Homo sapiens: one gene and its partners. The protein of the gene in region 2 purifies or fractionates together with the protein of the main gene of each other region. This does not show direct contact. Each region holds a gene or a part of one and is shown on either strand. Other genes may lie near its edges.

The links.
Region 1: the proteins of AGMAT (region 2) and CYP24A1 purify together in Homo sapiens (affinity purification with mass spectrometry; one large-scale study listed by BioGRID and IntAct). This does not show direct contact.
Region 3: the proteins of AGMAT (region 2) and DCX purify together in Homo sapiens (affinity purification with mass spectrometry; one large-scale study listed by BioGRID and IntAct). This does not show direct contact.

Annotation. Positions count from the first base shown.
Region 1 is NC_000020.11:54,152,845-54,156,480, reverse strand, and holds the end of CYP24A1 (1,25-dihydroxyvitamin D(3) 24-hydroxylase, mitochondrial isoform 1 precursor), read left to right. Parts: exon of another isoform or gene 1-1,719; 3' UTR 1,720-3,035; downstream 3,036-3,636.
Region 2 is NC_000001.11:15,578,544-15,582,198, reverse strand, and holds part of AGMAT (guanidino acid hydrolase, mitochondrial precursor), read left to right. Parts: intron 1-2,056; coding exon 2,057-2,105; intron 2,106-3,144; coding exon 3,145-3,340; intron 3,341-3,655. UniProt on the Homo sapiens protein: Hydrolyzes linear guanidino acids to form urea and the corresponding amines. Displays specificity for substrates having a negatively charged head group and short chains including taurocyamine, guanidino propanoic and butanoic acids.
Region 3 is NC_000023.11:111,398,556-111,402,210, reverse strand, and holds part of DCX (neuronal migration protein doublecortin), read left to right. Parts: intron 1-880; coding exon 881-1,221; intron 1,222-3,655. UniProt on the Homo sapiens protein: Microtubule-associated protein required for initial steps of neuronal dispersion and cortex lamination during cerebral cortex development. May act by competing with the putative neuronal protein kinase DCLK1 in binding to a target protein.

The DNA of each region.
Region 1 (3,636 bases), on a different chromosome or scaffold from region 2:
TGTCAGCTGAAGGCGATCCTCAACTTTGAGAGATTTCCCATATTCCTTGGCTCATGAAACCTTCCCCAACTGAAAGCCAGTAACAATGGTTGGTTGAGTCCCTCTCACACTTTGAATCTCTCTTTCTTCTTACATTGCTTCTGTCTGACAAGATATTATCCAGGATCATGTCTCCCATCTCCAAGTTCATAAATTTAATTTCATCTGGAAAGCCCTTTTTTTCATATAAGGTAGTATATTCACGTGTTCCAGGGATTAGGGCATTCACATTTTAGGAGATCTGTTATTCTGCCTACAAAGGCTGTGTTCTGATAAATTTTATAAAAAACAAGCGGTGGACTGTATTTAGCCCTAGGGTCTAGGTTTGTGTTATGCAACCACATGTAATATAAATGTATATATTTATCAGCCTGTATTGAACACAATAGAATATTTTTTCTGCAGTATGCCATTCAATACTTTTTCTGACAATAGAGGAGTTCTCATGTTCCCTCCACAACTTTTGCCATGTCCATATACCAACCAGGTGCTATTTATTTCAATACTACTGAGTTATTTCCTTTAAATAACATAAGCCAAATAGCATATGTTGGCCTCGTCCTGAGTAATAATTTCCTTAATGAAATTAAGAGTTAGTAAGTCTAGTTATGTTCTCCTAATAGACATTACAATGAATTCAAAACTATTGAAGTGATCAAAAGTTAGCCTAAGAAGGCCCTAATTTTTTTTTTTTTTTTTTTTTTTGAGACAGTGTCTCACACTGTCACCTGGGCTGGAGTGCAATGGTGCAATCTCAGCTCACTGCAACCTCCGCCTCCTGGGTTCATGCGATTCTTCTGCCTCAGCCTCCCGAGTAGCTGGGATTACAGGCAGGTGCACACCACCACACCCAGCTAATTTTTTGTATTTTTAGTAGAGATGGGGTTTCATTATGTTGGCCAGACTGGTCTTGAACTCCTGACCTCGTGATCCACCCGCCTCGGCCTCCCAAAGTGCTGGGATTGCAAGTGTGAGCCACCACCCCTGGTGGTGGAAATAAGACATTTGTAACATATGGCTTTATAGGCTGACATGTCGGTGTTTAAACCCGGATTCTATCATTGTGTTCTTTTAGCAGCACCTTCTAGGATTTTCCTAGAAAAAAATGCTGTTTGCCAATGGCAAGTTAAGGAGCATTTGCTTATTGGTAGATTATTTAGAGAAACATGCAATTACAGATGAAATTTCTGAACAAGGCCCAAATGAATACATTATTATTCCTCCACCAAGTGTCTGATGCTATTATGAAATTTGTCAAATTCTGAGCATCCCAACCAACAGAACTGAATCAAGTAGGGTAAGGAAAGTATTCTAGCTGCATTGTGACACCCCAGCCTTCAGCAAAGAGCATGCATGTTTATCACAGTAAGCCACACCTTTTAAGTTTTAGCATTTTTTCTTTGGCTAATAATTTGTCTTGTTTAAATACACTTCTTTGATATACAATTAGGGTATACCTTTTTTTTTTTTTTTTTTTTTTTTTTTTTTTTTTTTTTTTTTTTACCAAGACCAAAACAGCCATTTCAACTTTTCTGCAAGAATGGTGCTTATGGCTTCTACGTTACCGGAAAGCAAACTTCAAACACCACACCATACAACAGCTTATAAAGAATATTTAGGCCCAGGTGTTGATACTTTTTCTTCTGCAAAATTGTTCCAGAAGCTGTACTGTCTTTCTAGATGGTGGTATTTGCTAACATCATATCCAACTCAGGGAAGCGGACTGAGTGCTGGGATCCAAGGCATTCTACAGGGTTCACTGCTGGTTTACACTTCACCTGTGTCAGCACCATCTTCAGGTGCTTAGAATGGCCTGGGAGCCTGTTCTGTCTTGCATCTTCCATGACATGAAAGGGAGGCTGGCACTTGTCAGTCAGGTAGAGGTTACAAACCGTTTCAGGCCCTGCCTACCACATTCACTGTTTGAATCTTTAATTCCCAAGAATAAGTTTACATTTCACAATGAATGACCTACAACAGCTAAATTTTCTGGGGCTGGGAGTAATACTGACAATCCATTTACTGTAGCTCTGCTTAATGTACTACTTAGGAAAATGTCCCTGCTTAATAATGTAAGCCAAGCTAAATGATGGTTAAAGTTATCAGGCCTCCCATGAAATTGCGTTCTTCCTGCATTGAAATAAAAACATTATTGGGAAACTAGAGAACACCTCTATTTTTAAAAGGACTTTAACGAAGTCAAACAACTTATAAGACTAGTGATTCACTGGGGCATTATTTTGTTAGAGGACCTTAAAATTGTTTATTTTTTAAATGTGATTCCTTTATGGCATTAGGGTAAAGATGAAGCAATAATTTTTAAATTGTGTATGTGCATATGAAGCACAGACATGCATGTGTGTGTGTGTCTGTGTGTGTGTGTCCGTGTATGTGTGTGTGGGTTCTAATGGTAATTTGCCTCAGTCATTTTTTTAATATTTGCAGTACTTGATTTAGGATCTGTGGTGCAGGGCAATGTTTCAAAGTTTAGTCACAGCTTAAAAACATTCAGTGTGACTTTAATATTATAAAATGATTTCCCATGCCATAATTTTTCTGTCTATTAAATGGGACAAGTGTAAAGCATGCAAAAGTTAGAGATCTGTTATATAACATTTGTTTTGTGATTTGAACTCCTAGGAAAAATATGATTTCATAAATGTAAAATGCACAGAAATGCATGCAATACTTATAAGACTTAAAAATTGTGTTTACAGATGGTTTATTTGTGCATATTTTTACTACTGCTTTTCCTAAATGCATACTGTATATAATTCTGTGTATTTGATAAATATTTCTTCCTACATTATATTTTTAGAATATTTCAGAAATATACATTTATGTCTTTATATTGTAATAAATATGTACATATCTAGGTATATGCTTTCTCTCTGCTGTGAAATTATTTTTAGAATTATAAATTCACGTCTTGTCAGATTTCATCTGTATACCTTCAAATTCTCTGAAAGTAAAAATAAAAGTTTTTAAATATTTGAGAGACTTCCCCTCTTTATTGCCTTTGTTACAACAAAATAAAAACAAATTCAAACTTTATTTTACTGGTAGAAAATTTTCTCATATGGCCTACAAGCCCTATATCACAAAATTTACCCTTAGATAAATCTAGACTTTAATAGCAGTTTTACTGAAAGTTTATTCTTGTAATTGCAAAATAACTTTCCATTTTGTTGCTGCTTAAATATTTCCCAAGTCCAGTTACTTCTATCTCTACCCCCTTTCCAATCACACAATCAGTCACACACTGGTTGTGTGATTGAAAGGGGGGTAGAACGGCCTGGGAGCCTGTTCTCTCTTGTATCTTTCATGACATGAAAGGGAGGCTGGCACTTGGCAGTCAGGTAGAGGTTACGAACCATTTCAGCCCCTGCCTACCACATTCACTGTTTGAATACTTAATTCCCAAGAATAAGTTTACATTTCACAATGAAAGACCTACAACAGCCAAATTTTCCGTGGCTGGGAGCAATACTGACAATCTCTTGCCTGGACCACTAATATCTCTAGTCTCTGCAGGAGCTCCCAGCTGATCTCAGTCCTCTCTTGCTTCCTTCCCCTCTGTTCTTTGCACACTTGCCT
Region 2 (3,655 bases):
CGCCTCCCGGGTTCAAGCAATTCTGTCTCAGCCTCCTGAATAGCTGGGATTATAGGCGCCCGCCAGCATGCCCGGCTAATTTTTATATTTTTAGTAGAGACGGGGTTTCATCATATTGGTCAGGCTGGTCTCGAACTCCTGACCTCAGGTGATCTGCCCACCTCGGCCTTCCAAAGTGTTGGGATTACAGGCGTGAGCCATTGCGCCCGACCTATGCATGGCATATCTGAAGCTTCAATAAATGTTAACTGTTATTATTATCAGAAAGAATACTTTCCTAGGTCTGTGCTGTCCAGTAAGGTAGCCACTAGCCACATGTGGCTACTTAAATTCTTTTTTTTTTTGAGACAGAGTTTTGCTCTTGTTGTCCCGCTTGGCTCACGGCAACCTCCGCCTCCTGGGTCCAAGTGATTCTCCTGCCTCAGCCTCCTGAATAGCTGGGATTACAGGCGCGTGCCACCACGCCCAGCTAATTTGTTGCATTTTTAGTAGAAATAGGGTTTCAACATGTTGGCAAGGCTGGTCTCGAACTCCTGACCTCAGGTGATCCGCCGCCTCAGCTTCCCAAAATGCTGGGATTACAGGCGTGAGCCACCACGCCCGGCCTAAATTCAAATTAATTAAAATAAAATATTCAGTTTCTTAAGTCATATTAGCTACATGTATGTCACATGTGTGTCACATGTGGATAGTGGCTACCATATGGGCCAGTGCAGATAGAACATTGTCATCATCATAGAAGGTTCTATTGAACAGAGCTATTCTAGGCATTTTCCTAGAATACTGTGAAAAGGCAATTCCTAGAGTAGCTCTTAACTTGTCTAATTTCCTCTTTTATTTATTTATTTTTGAGACACGGTCTCACTCTGTCACCCAGGCTGGAGTGCAGTGGTGCCGACATGGCTCGCTGCAACCTTGCCCTCCCTGGGCTCAGGTGATCCTTCCACTCCAGCCTCCCGAGTAGCTGGGTCTACAGGCGTTTGTCACCATGCCCAGCTAATTTTTGTATTTTTTGCAAAGACGGGGTCTTAATGTATTACCCAGGTGGACCTTGAATTCCTGGGCTCAGGCGATCTGCTTGTCTTGGCCTCCCAAGGTGTGAGCCACTGCGCCTGGTCTATTTTTATTTTTATTTTTTAGAGACGTGGTCTTGCTGTGTTGCCCAGGCTGGTCTCAAACTTCTAGGCTCAAGCTATTTATTTATTTATTTTATTTTATTTTTTGAGATGGAGTTTCACCCTTGTTGCCTAGGCTGGAGTGCAGTGGCGCGATCTTGGCTCACCGCAACCTCCGCTTCCTGGGTTCAAGTGATTCTCCTGCCTCAGCCTCCAGAGTAGCCGGGATTACAGGCATGCGCTACCATGCCCGGCTAATTTTGTATTTTCAGTAGAGACGGGGTTTCTCCATGTTGGTCAGGCTGGTCTTGAACTCCCAACATCAGGTGACCTGCCCGCCTTGGCCTCCCAAACTGCTGGGATTACAGGCATGAGCCACCGTGCCCAGCAAGCTATTCATTTTTTTGAGATAGTGTCTTACTCTGTCGCCCAGGTTGGAGTGCAGTGGCACGATCACAGCTTACTGCAGCCTTGACCTCCCAGGCTCATTCAGCATCCTGCCATTCTATAAGATCTTACTGTAGCTGTGGTTATAACTCCCCCCAGGCTGAAAGGGTGAAAATTGAGTTAAGATTATTCAGCTGGGCATGGTGGCTCATGCCTGTAATCCTAGCACTTTGGGAGGCCAAGGCGAGTGGATCACTTGAGGTCAGGAGTTTGAGACCAGTCTGACCAACATGGTGAAACTCCGTCTCTACTAAAAATACAAAATTAGCCAGGTATGGTGGTACACACCTGTAATCCCAGCTACTCGGGAGGCTGAGGCAGGAGAATCGCTTGAACCTGGGAGGCAGAGGTTGCAGTGAGCCGAGATTGTGCCATTGAACTCCAGCCTGGACAACAGAGCAAAACTACATCTCAAAAAAAAAAAAAAAAAAAAAAGATTATTCTATGTAATCCTCCAATTCACTTTCCAGATGTTTTCTTCTTCCTCTTTGCAGGTGGAGATCACACAATCACATATCCCATATTGCAAGCGATGGCAAAAAAGTAAGTCTCAAATGGCTTGGGCCCAGCAAGATTTCAAAAGCCAGAAGCTAGGGAATGAGTTATTTGCTGTTTGGTGGCATTAGGTGACTGCTGCTGGCTCAGGTTATGAGCTGCTTCTGGGGATCAAAATTAAGGTTGAGCTCCAGGTGTCTCTGTCAGTCAGCAGCTAGAAGCCAAGACAATTTATTATTAACAGTTCTGGCCACCCTCCCTTGCCCTAGATCTCTCCTGGTATGTGTGCTCAGCATTTTCAACTTGCTTCTGTTTTTGGAAGATGAGCCTCTAGTGAAATACACAACCTCAGTTAACTTCAGTTTCTGTTTTGCTTCAATGGCCAAAAACAAACACTGACAGGCACAATGGTGGACCTTGCTGAGAGGCCCTTGTTTCCTCCTGAAAGGGCACCTTTCTCAATCAAAAGACTGATTTGCCAGTAGTGGAAGTCTACCCAGGATTGGCCGACTTTGGCTAATTTAGTTTGAGAAAGAGACAGAAGGACCCGGGTGGAGGGTGGCAGCTCCAGAATGTGTCTGTGGAAGCACATGTGGGTGGCATTCTGGTTGGAGGTGGGAGGGTGCAGGTCTTTGCTCAAAGCTGCATTTATTCCTCACGGATTTGGATCAGATGTTTATTTTGGGTGGCTGGCAGGGGTTGATGGAGGTTATGGAGAGAGCTGGATTAAAGCTTCCTCTTCCTCGGTTGGAGAAAGGGTGTGTCTTGGTTTAGTTAAGCCTTCAGCCAAGCTCCCCTGTGCCACCACCCTTGATTCTCATCCTGTCTCTAAGTGAAGCAAATTCTGGGTGATAGGTGTGGGTGGCAGCCAAAACATGTCTATTTCCTGCCTGACTTCTGTGAGTTTATTGTTCCTCTGAGATGCAAAGTGATCTCAAGAAGACAGGAACCAGTTGCAAGGCAGAAAACGGATGCCAGGTCTCCCCTTTTTGGCTGTGAATTGTCACCAAGTTTTGGTGGCCCGAAGGGTGGCTGTGCTAGGGCCCCACAGGGAGGGTTGGCCTCTGAGCTGCCCTGTTGTCATCAGGCATGGCCCAGTGGGGCTGCTGCACGTGGATGCGCACACGGACACGACCGACAAGGCCCTAGGAGAGAAGCTCTACCACGGGGCGCCCTTCCGCCGGTGTGTGGATGAGGGTCTCCTGGACTGTAAGCGTGTGGTGCAGATTGGCATCCGGGGCTCTTCCACGACCTTGGATCCCTACAGATACAACCGGAGCCAGGTGACAGACCGAATGCCCCCCACCCTTGCCCCTCAAAATGTCTTCCTCTCCGTTGCCTCACCAGTGGCAGCCAGGGATTGAGCGGGGGCTTTACTAATCAAGTCTGAAGCAGGGATACAAGGCTGAGTTTGCATCATCAGGGGCATAAGGAGCATAGGAGTGAGGAAGTTGGTTTATGGGCCATGGGAAGTCTATCGCTGGGCGGGGGAGACAAGCAGAAATCGACCAACCCCTCGGACGGTGCTGGCTTAGAAGAGGGGAGGAGGCCGGGCACAGTGGCTCACACCTGTAATCCCAGCACTTTGGGAGGCTAAG
Region 3 (3,655 bases), on a different chromosome or scaffold from region 2:
ATCAGGCTGTATAATGTATTCTCACTTCTTTACCTCATTACTTGTGGCAGCCAAGGGTGAGCACTGGTGAAGATGACCCTGAATACACAGATCTTATGTGCATCCTTTGAGAGGATGGAAAGATGAAGGGTGAGTGGTAGAAACATGAGAGTATTTTTCAAGCAAAAGCTAAGGTGTTTATATGTACTGGTTGTTATTTAGACAGTTTCTCTACCTAGTGTAGCATAAGGAGTAGAGGACACACTTATACACACATATAAACATTCAACATATGCACACACATTTCACATTTCAATATTCCATACTTGGCCATATACTCTGTGCAAAGGATGACCTGGTTTCTTATCAAGTATGTATGTATGCCTGATATACAAGGTTACTTGGTTCATTTTAACTTGGCATAAAAATGTTTTAACTTTGAAAGTTTTCCTTGGTTCATAATATCACAAAGGGATGGGACTTTGAGTCCAAAAATAGGACAGGGATTTTAAGAAATAGAAATGTTAAAAATTCTCCAGTAATGCCCCTGAAAGCTAAACATCCTAGAAACTAACATAAATGTTTAAATTCCAGAAAAAACCATATCAAGCTTGGAACTCCACTTGTTATATTAAATTTAGATATGCTCTTTGTCCTTAGAACCCTTAGCTTTACAGAGTTCTTCAACTAGGTGTGTCATTATATTGAAGGATGTTTTGAGAATTACTCTTGAATTTGGATGAGCCAAGTTTTTAGCCCAATTAGGAATTGCACCTAAGGTTGGTTAGTATCACCATTTATTGAAAAGTTCTACTCCAGTGTCAGTGTGTATTAGTTTGGTTAGAATAATCCATATATCTGCTATTAAACTAATCACCTAATCACTTATTTCTTGCCTTAGGGGAAAGCTATGTCTGTTCCTCAGACAACTTCTTTAAAAAGGTGGAGTACACCAAGAATGTCAATCCCAACTGGTCTGTCAACGTAAAAACATCTGCCAATATGAAAGCCCCCCAGTCCTTGGCTAGCAGCAACAGTGCACAGGCCAGGGAGAACAAGGACTTTGTGCGCCCCAAGCTGGTTACCATCATCCGCAGTGGGGTGAAGCCTCGGAAGGCTGTGCGTGTGCTTCTGAACAAGAAGACAGCCCACTCTTTTGAGCAAGTCCTCACTGATATCACAGAAGCCATCAAACTGGAGACCGGGGTTGTCAAAAAACTCTACACTCTGGATGGAAAACAGGTAGGTACTTTTTCAAAGTACTTTTCCCGTTTTTTCTAAATTCTTAGATGATCATGTTATACCTAAAATATCATTTCTTGTTGACGGACTCTTCCTCCACATCTCATCATCACAACCTGATATTATAGGTTTCATTTGGAGAAAAGGTATTTTTAGCAGGCAAAGCAATGAATCAGGAATCTGAGGCTTTGAAATTCAATCTGCTTCTGATTTACCATGCAGAAAGGTCACTTAGCCTCAGCTTCCTTATCTGCTATGAAAGATGTGTTAGAACCTAGGTTCTATGAATTCTTATGAATATGAATTTAGCTATTATATGATGCAACCTTCATTGTTCAATACATGTGACTGAAAATGATATTTGCCCATTCATTACTTTTTAGATACCCTCACATTGATGCTCAGCATCTATTTTGATAAAAGGAAGTTGAAGTGACCTTCATATGCTCTGAAAGAAGTCAGATACGGGGAAAGCACTGAAGCCTCTGGCTCGTTGTCTTTGCCTCACACTAAACCATATTTATTCTCTTTCTCTTTTCCATATGACATAGCTGTCTTAATTTGGTTCCACTGATGGTTTGTGTGAGAAAGGGACTATTTCAGGATCCTAAAATTAGCCCAAGAAAGATGCTGCCATCTGTTCCCCCTCCAAATCAGGTTCTTCATGTCATTGGTTATACTACTAAAGTGCCACCTATATTAATATCTGGGAAAGAATGCAGCCAGGCGTCTCCATCAGACAGATGCACCATTCTCTTAAGCATAGGGAGCTGTAAATATACAACAAAAATGTTCCAAGGGAATTGGAACAGTGGCTGGTTCTGTTGGCTCTAAAGAGAATTCTGGTCTCCCATCAGAAAAGACAAGTGTGGATTAGTATCAGTCCATATATTCTACCTCTTAAAATGCCTTTGGTGTTTAAACAACTATATAGAAAAGGTATTCCTAAAAGGCGGATTCACTATATATCAAAGTTACTGATGAGTGTTCAAATGCAGACCTGTGCCTCCTCCTATAATTTCTGATAGTAATGTGTGCTCCAAGATTTTAAGTTTCAGGGAAAACTCACCCAGGTACTGTGTACTTTGCAATTTTGAGAAATATTTGGCTTTGTTTCCCATCATTTTGCGATCTGAGAGCTACCTGGACACATTGGTTATACCTGACTTCTGTTTGTTGTACTGAAGCAATGGGTTTGTCTGTGATGTTGGGAAAATCTCCAATTCCCAAGCATTTCTCTAAGAGTGTCTATCTTCTAAGCACCATGTATGTAATAAACAGGAGCTGTCTAAGTATAGGCCTGATTGCCAAAGCCTCATCTCAGAGAAATAGGACATAGAAAGTTTAGAATCATTGGATCACAGAGTTGAGAATGACTTTAGAAGCCATGACATTTAATCTTCCACCTAAGGCATGGATATCCTCTACAATCACTCTATAAGACTATAAGACAGCCTATTTCACTGTTCAACAGCTGTGATTTTTAGAGTTTCTTTATATTAGGCATAAATCTGATTCCCTGTGCCTTCAGCCTTCTGAAGTAATATAGGAATATGCAAATCAAAAACATAAGACTGGGATTAAGAAGATTTGGACTTTAGTCTTGATATTGTCACTTAACCACTTAACTGTCCTGAACCTCACACTCCTTCTCTGTACAAAAGGACTGATCACACCTGCCCTGAGCATGCTCACAGGACTCTTATGAGGATTAAATCAAATAATGGATATGAAAGCACTCTGTAAATTGACACATGGATGTATATATATATATATGCATATAATTCATCATTAAATGAGATTTATGGCAATTTTCATATATTAATAAATGTTAGCTCTCTTTCTCCTACTTTATTTATTTATTTATTTACTTTTGGAGTCAGAGTCTCACTCTGTCACCCAGGCTGGAGTGCAGTGGTGTGAATTTGGCTCACTGCAACCTCTGCCTCCTGAGTTCAAGCAATTCTCCTGCCTCAGCCTCCCAAGTAGCTGGGACTACAGACGCACGCTGCAATACCCGGCTAATTTTTTTGTATTTTAGTAGAAACGGGTTTTCACTGTGTTGCCCGGGATGGTCTTGAACTCCTGAGCTAGGGCAATCCGCCCACCTTGGCCTTCCAAAGTGCTAGGATTATAGGCATGAGCCACCATGCCTAGCCTCTTCCCCCTACTTTATCTCTATCATTCTTATTATAAATTTCCAACATTTGTGAATATATACCATGCCTTGGCATTCTGCTTTTGTTCCAAATAATATATAAAGGGACACCTCCATCTCCTAGGGAAGCAAGCTCCAGTCCAGTGATGCATAGGGTTTTGTCCTACAGCAGGCCATGCAGAGTGGCAAGCTCTCTCAAACTCCTTTAAACATCAGTTCCCTTTCTTTGGGGGACATATTACAAAATACCAGCATATGATATGACATTCATATAGA